Linked DNA regions of Homo sapiens: region 2 is linked to region 1. The links come from fine-mapping of genetic effects on gene expression. A gene starts in region 1. The other region holds a variant in brackets. All regions are shown on one strand. Distances are from middle to middle. Region 1 holds the start of VSIG10L (V-set and immunoglobulin domain containing 10 like). Region 2 overlaps SIGLECL1 (SIGLEC family like 1).

Region 1 (5,367 bases):
TCAGTTCATGTGCCTCAAATGGGGCCAGGGGATTGACTTCCAAGAGGGCTCACCCACATAGCCAGCAAGCTGGCTGGGGCTGCTGACCAGGGGCCATGATTCCCCTCCATGGGGCTGCTGATCCTCGCAGTGTGGCGGCTGGATTCCATGAGGGAGTGTCCTATGATACAGAAAGTGGCATATGCCGGCCTAGATGCAGATCCTGGCACAGGGCCACTTCCACGTCTTGGTCCAGCAGTCACACAGCTACTCAGATCCAAGCAGAGGGGACATAGACCCCGCATCTTAACAGGAGGACGCTCAAATTTGCAGCCCTCTTTAAGCTACATCATCTACTCCATGGAGTTTTGAAAGGTTAATTTATGTAGCACCCCCATAACCACACCTGCTATGCAAAAAATGCTAAATATATATTATTACCAATATTAGTCCGGGCACGGTGGCTCACGCCTGTAATCCCAACACTGGGAGGCTGAGGCGGGCAGATCACTTGAGGTCAGGAGTTCATGATAAGCCTGGCCAACATGGCAAAACCCCATCTCTCCTAAAAATAACAAAAATTAGCCTGGTGTGGTGATGCACACCTATACTCCCAGCTGCTGCAGAGGCTGAGACGGGAGAATCACTTGAACCCGGGAGATGGAGCCTGCAGTGAGCTGAGGCACTCACTGGGTGACAGAACGAGACTCCATCTCAAAATATATATATATTACCAGTATTATTACTGGTGAGAACTGGGCCAGGGTAAGCTTAGAGGACTGGGAGCTGAGCAGAGGCCCTAAGCTCCACATGGGATGGTGGGAAAAGCTATCAGAAGGAGTCAATGGTCTGACCATCCTGGTCCCAAGTCCAGCTTCTCCCTCTGGCTGTGCAACCTCCTGCAGGTCCCTTGACCTCTCTGAGCCTAAGTCCCCTGGCCTGCAAAGTGAGTATAATGACACTCAGCTTATAGGGTGTTTAGAAGTGTTCAGCCTGATAGTGCATAGGAAACATTTAGCGTAGTTCCTGGCTCAAATTAAGTGGTAATTATGGTTCTTAATAAGGTGAGACCTGAAGGACAAGTTGTGGTTTAGCCAGGTTGGAGGGAGGTGGAGAGTGGGAGAGAGCATTCCAGGTAGAGGACTGGGAGGTGAGATGGGCGGGCAGGATAAGAATGGCAGGATGTTCAAGTGCTTGAGTGGGGGCTGTGCATGAGTTTGCTTTGAACCTTGGATGTCTCCAGAGGGCACTGGGGAGCCAGGGGAGGGCTGTGAGCAGGGGGAGGCAGGTTCAGCTCTGGGTATAGAAGGACCCTGGCAGGGAATGGAGGAGACTGGGCAGAGGAGGGAGACGGGGCAGGAAGAGAAGACAGAGCCTGGCCAGTGAGAACTAGGGGGAGGAGGGTTGGACTCAGATCGACAGTGGTGACAGGGAGGGAGGAGGTGGGAATGTTCTCCAGCATTTGCGAAGACAGTGAAGCCATCCTGGAGGTGTGAGGAAGTTTGGGTTAGAGGAAAGAGTCTGAGTTTAGCGGGACACAGGCCATGTGAGGGCCTCGGGGATGCGGAAATGCAGCTCTGGTCTCAGGATAGAGGCCCTGGCAGGAGATAGCACCTGGAGACTTGGTTCTGAGGGCAACAGAGAGCCGTGGGAGGGTTTGGAGCAGAGGAGGAGCAGGGTCAGATGTATCTGAGGCTGCAGGCAAGACAGAGTGGAAGGAGCCAGGAGGCTGGGGAGGAGGAAGCCTGCTCTGAAGCTGTGGCCATCAGAGGTGGGGCTCTCGGAAAGGTCACCTCACCCTCCTCCAGGAAGTCTTCCTGGCTTTGTCTCACAAATTTGCTCCCACATTTTTAGCTGGGAATGTTTTCTCCAGCTTCCCCCTGGGGGTGGGGAGGGCAGGGATCAGGCTGGGCCTCTCTGCAGATGGGACCAGCTAATGAAGAGAGTGGGATGAGGTGGGCAGCTCAGCCACCACACTGGGGTTGAGGATCTTGGCACCTCCCTCTGGGTCTGGCTCCCTTCCCCTCCCAGGAAGCTAAGCTACCAGTCCTGTTGGACTCGTCTGACCCGGGAGGGATGGGTGCAGTCCTGGGTCTCTCTCCAGTGTCCTTTCAGTGAGGCCAGCACCATGGACAACCCACAGGCTCTGCCACTCTTCCTACTCCTGGGTAAGTTCCCTGCTCAGTCCCTTCCCTGTCAGTCTCCCTCAGCAGCCTCCCCCAATGCCTTCCTCTCTTCTCTGCAGCCTCCTTGGTAGGGATCCTCACCCTCAGAGCCTCTTCTGGACTTCAGCAAACCAACTTCTCCTCTGCCTTCTCTTCAGACTCAAAGAGCTCTTCCCAGGGGCTGGGTGTGGAAGTTCCCTCCATCAAACCTCCCAGCTGGAAAGTTCCAGATCAGTTCCTGGATTCAAAAGCCTCTGCTGGAATCTCTGATTCCAGCTGGTTTCCTGAGGCCCTGAGTTCCAACATGTCTGGGTCCTTCTGGTCAAATGTTTCTGCTGAGGGCCAAGATTTGAGCCCGGTTTCCCCCTTCTCTGAAACCCCTGGTTCTGAAGTATTTCCTGATATTTCGGATCCTCAAGTTCCTGCCAAAGACCCCAAGCCTTCCTTCACTGTTAAGACCCCAGCTTCAAACATTTCTACTCAAGTCTCCCATACCAAACTGTCTGTTGAGGCCCCAGATTCAAAATTCTCCCCGGATGATATGGATCTTAAACTCTCTGCCCAGAGCCCTGAATCCAAATTTTCTGCAGAGACCCACTCAGCTGCAAGCTTTCCCCAGCAGGTGGGGGGCCCACTCGCTGTGCTGGTGGGGACCACCATCCGGCTCCCCCTAGTCCCAATCCCCAACCCTGGGCCCCCCACCTCTCTGGTGGTCTGGCGCCGGGGCTCAAAGGTGCTGGCAGCTGGGGGCCTGGGGCCAGGGGCACCTCTGATCAGCCTGGACCCTGCTCACCGAGACCACCTGCGATTTGACCAGGCCCGGGGGGTTCTGGAGCTCGCCTCTGCCCAGCTGGACGATGCAGGGGTCTACACGGCTGAGGTCATCCGGGCAGGGGTCTCCCAGCAGACTCACGAGTTCACGGTGGGTGTGTATGGTAAGTGGGCCCTGGCGTCCGGCGTGCAGGCGGCAGGGGCTGCTCTGCTCTGCCAGGCTTTGGGCAAGTCACGGTGCTGTGGGGTCCCTGGATAGGAGAAGAGGACTTCTGGGTTGAGGAAGGGAGAAAAAGAGCTAGAGGTCAAGGCAGGGGTGTCTGAGCAAAGGTGGACCTGGGATGGAGACTCCTGGGAGCCTGAACTCCCAGGTCTGAGGGAGGAGGAGGAGGCTAGGAGCCTCTTCTGGCGAACTCCTGGGTCCCGGAGAGGAGGTGTCTGGGGGCTCAAACTCATAGGTTTATGAGAGGAGAGGGATGGGGGCTGAGACTCCAGGGGCTTAGAGGGAGCAGCGGCTGGGGTTCCCTCTAAGGGGACCAAAGATGGGCTCCAGGACTGGGTGGGTCCTGAGCCCATTCTCCCTCTCCCAGAGCCCCTACCCCAGCTGTCGGTTCAGCCCAAGGCTCCAGAGACAGAGGAGGGGGCGGCCGAGCTCCGGCTGCGCTGCCTGGGGTGGGGGCCAGGTCGCGGGGAGCTGAGCTGGAGCCGGGACGGACGCGCCCTGGAGGCGGCGGAATCGGAGGGAGCCGAGACGCCCCGGATGCGCTCAGAGGGCGACCAGCTGCTCATCGTGCGCCCTGTGCGCAGCGACCACGCCCGGTACACTTGCCGCGTCCGCAGCCCCTTCGGCCACAGGGAGGCTGCCGCCGACGTCAGCGTCTTCTGTGAGTGGGGGATGCCTCGGGTCGGGGACAGGGGGTCCTTGGGGAGAAGCGGGCTGGGGACCCAGTCTCCGGGAGTCCTAGCGGCGTCCCAGGTGACCCTGACACTCGCGGTCCCGACCCCTCCTCCCTCCAGACGGCCCGGACCCGCCGACCATCACGGTCTCCTCGGACCGCGACGCCGCGCCTGCCCGCTTTGTCACCGCGGGCAGTAACGTGACCTTGCGCTGCGCCGCCGCCTCGCGGCCGCCCGCCGACATCACGTGGAGCCTGGCGGACCCGGCCGAGGCCGCGGTGCCCGCGGGGTCGCGCCTCCTGCTGCCCGCGGTCGGACCGGGCCACGCAGGCACCTACGCCTGCCTGGCGGCGAACCCGCGTACCGGCCGCCGCCGCCGCTCGCTGCTCAACCTTACAGTGGCGGGTGAGAGGCTGGAGCGGGAGTAGGGGAATGCCTGGGAGAGGGGCGGGGCCAGAACGAGGGCGGGGCTAGAGGAAAGGGGCGGGGCCAGCAAGGAGGAGCAGCATACCGGTGGGTGGGGCAGGGCCAGCGGGAGGGCGGGTCACCAAGAAGGAGCTGGGATACCCGTGGTGGGGCGGGCCAGCGCGGAGGGGCGGAGACACCTAGGATAAGAGGCGGGGCCAGAAAGAGGATAAGGGAAGGAGCCAAATAGAGTGGCAGGGATGACCAGGACTGACGGGCCGGCCCAGCACTGAGAGGGCGGACATTCCTGGGCATGGAACACTCGACAAAGTCGACAAGCGGAGTTAAATGGCAAAGAGTGGGAGTTAGAAAAGGAAAGAACTAATTTGCTTAAGTGGGATCAGCAAAGGGAGAAGTTACCTGGCAAGGGGGGCGGAGTCACCAGGGAAAGGGGCGAGGTCATTTAGAAAGCGGGCAGAATTGTCTTAGAAAGGGGAAGGGGTCCACAAGGAAGGGCGGAGATATCTGGGAAAAGGGGAGGCTTCTCGGAGTGCAATCCAGGAGGGGGCGAAGTAACCTGGCAGAAGTGGGTGGAGCTGGAAAGGAAGGGGCTGAGTTACGTTTGGGAAGAGAAATATCATTGTGTGAAGATGCAGTTTTCTTAAGAAAGTTGGGCAGTCAGCAGGGCTGCGGGCTACCCACTTAGCGAGGAAGTTAATGGGAAAAGGGAACGGGATCGCAGGAAAAGTGGGGAGTGTGAGCGCCTATGGGGTGGGGCTAGTGAAGAAGGGTGGAGTCACCGCGCGGGGAGGCGGGGCTGGAGAAGAAATGAGAAAGGGACTCCATCTTCATTCTCTCCCTTCTCTCCGCAGACCTGCCCCCCGGGGCCCCACAGTGCTCAGTTGAAGGGGGTCCCGGGGACCGCAGCCTCCGCTTCCGCTGCTCGTGGCCCGGCGGGGCCCCTGCTGCCTCCCTGCAGTTCCAGGGTCTCCCCGAAGGCATCCGCGCCGGGCCAGTGTCCTCTGTGCTGCTGGCGGCCGTCCCCGCCCACCCCCGGCTCAGCGGCGTCCCCATCACCTGCCTTGCTCGCCACCTGGTGGCCACGCGTACCTGCACAGTCACGCCGGGTGAGAGGGCGCGGGGCTTTTTT
Region 2 (5,367 bases), 73 kb after region 1:
CCAAACCCATCTCTGACCTATCTCCAACCCGATCCCTATCCTCTCTCCTATTCCTTTTCTACATTTTTTTCTCTTCTTTCCCAACACTGGCACTCTCCCTCTCCCCAGCCTTGTCTGCCTCTCCCTCCCAAACAGAGGATGTATCTTTAGTAGAAGCAAACACCAAACCTGTTACATAGAGGCTTCTATCCTCAACTCAAAACCTCTGCTGCCCAGGATTCTCACACAGCTCCACTGGATGTGATTCTCAAACAATCTGCACTTTCCAGAATTACAAAGCATAAGAGGAAATAACCCTCCATAAGTGAGGACAAAACCTAAACTTCCCACTAGAGCCCTGGAAGGCCTGCAAGTTCTGGCCCTTCAGGAGCTCATCCCTCAGTCAATTCCAGTCACAGCGGCCTGCTCTGGGCTCCTGAACTCACCAAACTGTTCTCATGTCAGAGCTTAGGATCTACTGCTCCCTCTGTCTAGCCAGCTCCTAATAATCCTATAGGTCTCAAGGCAAGTGTCACTTTCTCTGAGAGGCCTTCTCTGACTCTGTAATCCAACCTAGCTTCCTTTCCTGTGCTTTCTCATAGTATTCTGTCCTGTTTTCTTTCTAGCACTTATCAACATTTTAAGCTATAAATTCGTCTGCATTTCTTCATCGTCTGTCTATGTAGACCATGACTCCACGGAGGCAGGGTGAGTGTCTTACTTCTTCCCCTCATTATCTGGCACATGGTGGCACATCTGATATTTCTGTGAAATGTGAACTGCCTGTGAGAGGTGCTTATACATGTGGGGGCTAACGTAAACGTCCACCCTGAGTATAAGATGACCATCTAGCTGGTGCTACAGGATCACTGTATTTACCCACAAATATTGCCCCAGGGAAGAGATGACCCTCTTTCCACCTACTGAAAACTACTAGCATCTGGCCAGGCACGGTGGCTCACTCCTGTAATCCCAGTACTTTGGGCGGCCGGGGTAGGTGGATCACCTGAGGTCAGGAGTTTGAGACCAGCCTGGCCAACATGGTGAAACCCTGTCTCTACTAAAACTATAAAAAATTAGCTGGGTGTGATGGTGTGTGCCTGTAATCCCAGCTACTCGGGAGGCTGAGGCAGGAGAATCACTTGAACCCGGGAGGCAGAGGTTGCAGTGAGCCGAGATTGCACCATTGTACTCCAGCTTGGGCAACAAGAGCAAAACTCCATCTCAAAAAAAAAAAAAATCTACTAGCATCTGGCTAGAAAGGAGGTTGTCATCCATTCTGAGAGGAACAATACATAGTTGTGGTTCATTCTAATGCCAGAATCCCTTTCCCATTCCTTGCATGCCTGCCTTTCAATCTGGCCAAGAACTATTGCGATAACCTCCTAACTAGCATCTTTACCTCCAGCCTTACCCATTCTAAATATATCATATGTGGGGTCAGGGTACGGAAATGATTTTTCTGTCTATATCTGGTCACTCTACTTGCTTGCTTCAAACCTTAAAACAGCTTATAATTAATTAAATCATTTGACAAACATTCTTGAGATCTTATTGTATTTTAGGCATCATTCTGGGTGCTGGTGATAAAAGTAGAAAACAAGGCAGACAAAGTCCCTGTTCTCTTGGAACTTACATTCTAAGGGAGTCAGGATAAGGTCCTACAAGATAAAGCTCCAAAGCTCCAATGAATCTTGGCATTCAGGGCCCATCGTCATGTTTTTTCTCACCTGCATCTCTGAACAGTACTTTTCACCCATTCTCCACCCAGATATGGGTCATGTGATGTTCAAAGGATGGGGAATGAAAGATCTTGTCCAAAGATAGACAGCCACCAAGCACTGAAGTTGGGATTCTATCCAGATATGAAGGCTTGAAAGCCTGGCGCTCTTGTAGGTGTATCTCAGGCACTGACACACAGTAGGCGCTCAAAAGTAACTTGCTGATGGACTTGATTCATATTGTCACATGTATTTTTCCTTCTTTTGACACCTTCCCAGGGTGGCACAGATTTCTTCTCATTTAGCCAAACAACAAATTACAAAGTGTGTCTTCAGAGGTTCTAAGACTAGGTCTAAGAGTAACCACCTATTCAATGGAGAATGAGTGTTAAGGGATGTGTAGGAATTGAGAGGGTTTTGTGAGCTGAGGAGAGTCCAGGGGGCTCCAGGTTTATTACAGCCTCCAGGGTTTCTGTGAGCGCTATAAATTTTGCAGATCTTTGTAATTCCAGGGATAATGGCGACTCCAGGTATGAGGCATGTTCCACAGGCTTAGCTGGCTCGTTTATCTTGCTTTTCCTGAAAGCGAGGTGCAAAATAGAACAAAGAAAAAAGAATGTTGGAACAGGTCTAGAGGTGAGGTATCCAAATCTTAAAAAGACACCCCCTTGTGCACAGAATTAAGGCAACATGGAGTGAGCACTGGCTTAGCCCTTCCTCACAACCCCATGGTTAAAGCCTGCAACTCGGTCTTCTCCATCTGGTCCTCTCTGTGCATCTTCAGTACCCATAACACTGACTGTTCCTTAGACTCCTCAGGGAATCTTGCCTGACTTCCTCAGGTAGGTTTGGTCCCTCCCTCTTCTGCACCACCGTAACTCCTGGCTCAGCATCCCCTACTGTGAAGGTGCCTTCTCGACCAGTCTAGTTGCTCTCTGAGGACAAGGCCTAGGTTTGGCCCATTTCTGAGACCCCAGCATTGTCGAGCACAAAGATTAGGAGATATTGCAGGAAATATTGGTGGAATTTAACAGATGGCTTATCTACAAAAGGACACCAACTGTTCATGCAGGGTGTTAGGAGGGCAGCAGGATAATTCTGATTCTGGAGAATCATAAACGGTAAATAACAGTGAGGC[A/G]TAGCAACCTCGGACACTGTATCTTCCAAGCCCTGCTGAAGATGTGGGGTACAGGGTGAATGAAGGAGTAACCTGGGCTTGGCCTAATCTCTAACCACTTCAGGCTGACTTGGCCTGTGGCATCTACACCAAGCTGACTGCTGCCGGCCATACACTCAGAGGCCAAATCCTTGGTTTCCACTCTGATGCTACAACTGCTATTAGGATTTTCCCCAACTGCCTTTTCAGTGGGGATTCAATGTAATGGTGTGTGCGTGTAAATTGATTTTAATTGTTCTTTAAATTGTTTCTCTTAACTTTCATCCTTCTCCTCTCTGGGCCTTAGCTTCCTATTTATAAAATGACCTGAAAGCACACTCTAGCATTAGGTATCCTGCAAGACTGAGGATGATAACACCTTCAAAACACTGTGTGCTCCTTTCCCTGTGGGTCTTATTATCAGTATTCCGATAGACTAGATTCCAGACACAATAGGTACATACCAATATCCGGCTCTCAGAAAATGTGGCGACTACGGGTTTTCCTGGTTCCTCAGGCTTCAGAGACATCTCAAGTTCTTGGCTTGCTCTGACTTTAGAGCTCTTTTTTGCTCTGATCGCTGCAGCTTTCTTCGCCTGCTTCTTTCTGATATGTTTCACTCTAAGGAAATAAGCCTTGGATTGGTTCTGGCTCTCCATCTCCCTGAATCCCCAAATGGGCTCTATCTTGACCAGAACTTCTGATTTAGAGCCTCAACAACAGTACCAGCTTGCTGTATGACCTAGGGCAAGCCACACATCCTCTCTGGGAATTAGTTTCACACTCTGAATAAGGGGGATACCCTGCTTATTAGGCTGTGGGGCTCAGATGAGGTCAGCTAAGAAAGGGCCTTGCAACTGGCAGAGAGATTGTTACTGGTCTTCAAGTCCTGTTGATTATACTTTGAAAATAGCTCCTCAGTTTGCCCTGACACCTCACTCCTCATCTTTGTCTCCCCATAGCCAGCCATGCCCAAGTCCCACCTCTCTGGCTGCCCCTCATCACTTGCCCCAGGTCAGGCCTTCTATTTCCTGCTTAGTCCCCTGCACCAGCTTCCTGCCTGGCCTCTGACCTTCTGGCTCTCACTCTCTCTAATCTGTGTCCCACCCCAAGCTCAAGCTTTCCTTCACAGCTTAGCACTCTTCCATGGCTCCGAAATGAGGATTCAGTCCAAGCTGTCTGGACAGGCTCCCCTGCCCGTCTCTCTGGCCTGACTTCCTGCAACTCACCCCTTCCCACTCCATGCTTCTAGCTAATACATGCAGCTAAGTTTTAACACCCTGTGAACCAACACCAAGGATGTCTTTCAACCTCATTTTTAGCCATTACCTGGTACTCTCAATGCACCTGACATTATACAAAGACACTGGAAATGCCTCAAACATGCCTCTGGGCGTCTGCATACAAAGGTTAGATATCCCTTATCTGAAATGCCTGGGGCCAGAAGTGTTTCAGATTTCAATTTTTTTTTTTTTTTTTAGATTTTGGAATATTTGTTTATACATAATGACATATCTTGGGGATAGGAGCCAAGTATAAAAACAAAATTCATTTATGTTTCATATATACCTTATACACATGGCCTGAAGGTAATTTTATATAATATTTAAAATTATTTTGTGCATGAAATAAAGTTTGTGTGCATTGAACTATCACATGAGGTCAGGTGTGGAATTTTCTACTTGTGGCATTATGTCGGTGCCTCGAGAACTTTTGGACTTTGGAGCATTTCGGATTTTGGATTTTTGGATTAGATACTCAACCTGTACTATTAATACTTTCCACCAAGCTAACGAGTACTGAACCCTTGCAGGCCCACCACAGACAGCACCCCGGGGACTCGCTGCTGCCTTTTCCAGGGCTGCCAAGTCCCTTCTTGGTCTTCTCCTTTATAAAATGTGTTCAAAGTGTCTGTTTTATGACACAGTTTTACGGTTCTGTATAGTCCTCATGGCCCTGGATTGTGGTGACCATGTTTGGTACATCTTTCCCTCTTTAGACCCTAAGCTCCTTGAGGGGAGGGGTCCTGTCTTTGCTCTCTCTGTGCCAGGGCTGCAGCCAGGGCCTGCCCGGTAGTAGGCTTGCGGGTGAATATTAACCCTAGTACTCACATGAGAGGGAGGAGGCAGAGGAAGAGCAGCGCAATTACAATTCCCGCATAGATAGCACCCTGGATCAGCCCTTTCACGAAGGCCTGGGCAGCCAAAGAACTCTTTCCTGGAAGCAGAGAGCATGTGAGAAGTTTGGCATCGGAGCCAAAACTCTGCTCCATTCTCTAGCCCCAGTGACTGTCCCCATCCCGCTTATTGTCCTCACCCAGTCACCGAGCCCCCTCCACCCTCACTTGACATCAGTAGGATGCTCAAAGCATGGGTTCCGTTTTGGTTCTTCCCCTCACAGAGAAGTCTCATGCCCATTTCTGGCTCTTCAGTTAGGCTGATGGTGCTGTTAGCCCAGGGGCCAAGCATGGTGGAAGTCACTTGGAGGCTGCCATCCATGCCATCCACACCC

The links. PIP is the estimated chance that this variant, and not a neighbour inherited with it, causes the effect.
Region 2: its variant is fine-mapped to the expression of VSIG10L in cerebellar hemisphere (GTEx, PIP above 0.99).

What each region holds. Positions count from the first base shown.
Region 1 is chr19:51,338,865-51,344,231 of GRCh38, reverse strand. It overlaps VSIG10L (V-set and immunoglobulin domain containing 10 like), which reads left to right and starts at 2,093. Exons shown (of 10, transcript NM_001163922.3): 1 at 2,093-2,147; 2 at 2,225-3,079; 3 at 3,506-3,799; 4 at 3,933-4,217; 5 at 5,090-5,344. The coding sequence starts at 2,108. VSIG10L-AS1 (VSIG10L antisense RNA 1) reads right to left here and starts at 4,212. Exons shown (of 5, transcript NR_186316.1): 1 at 3,515-4,212; 2 at 3,058-3,166; 3 at 2,247-2,382; 4 at 421-544; 5 at 1-160. RefSeq lists silencers at 4,059-4,328, 4,979-5,318.
Region 2 is chr19:51,265,483-51,270,849 of GRCh38, reverse strand. It overlaps SIGLECL1 (SIGLEC family like 1), which reads right to left. Exons shown (of 6, transcript NM_001385465.1): 3 at 5,201-5,367; 4 at 4,968-5,073; 5 at 3,321-3,477; 6 at 1,520-2,279. The coding sequence ends at 2,253. It overlaps LOC107985327 (a long non-coding RNA gene), which reads left to right. Exons shown (of 4, transcript XR_007067309.1): 2 at 606-687. Among named protein-coding and RNA genes, the nearest start is that of LINC01872, 3.1 kb to the left of the region's middle. The variant A/G (reference allele first, on the strand shown) is at 2,839.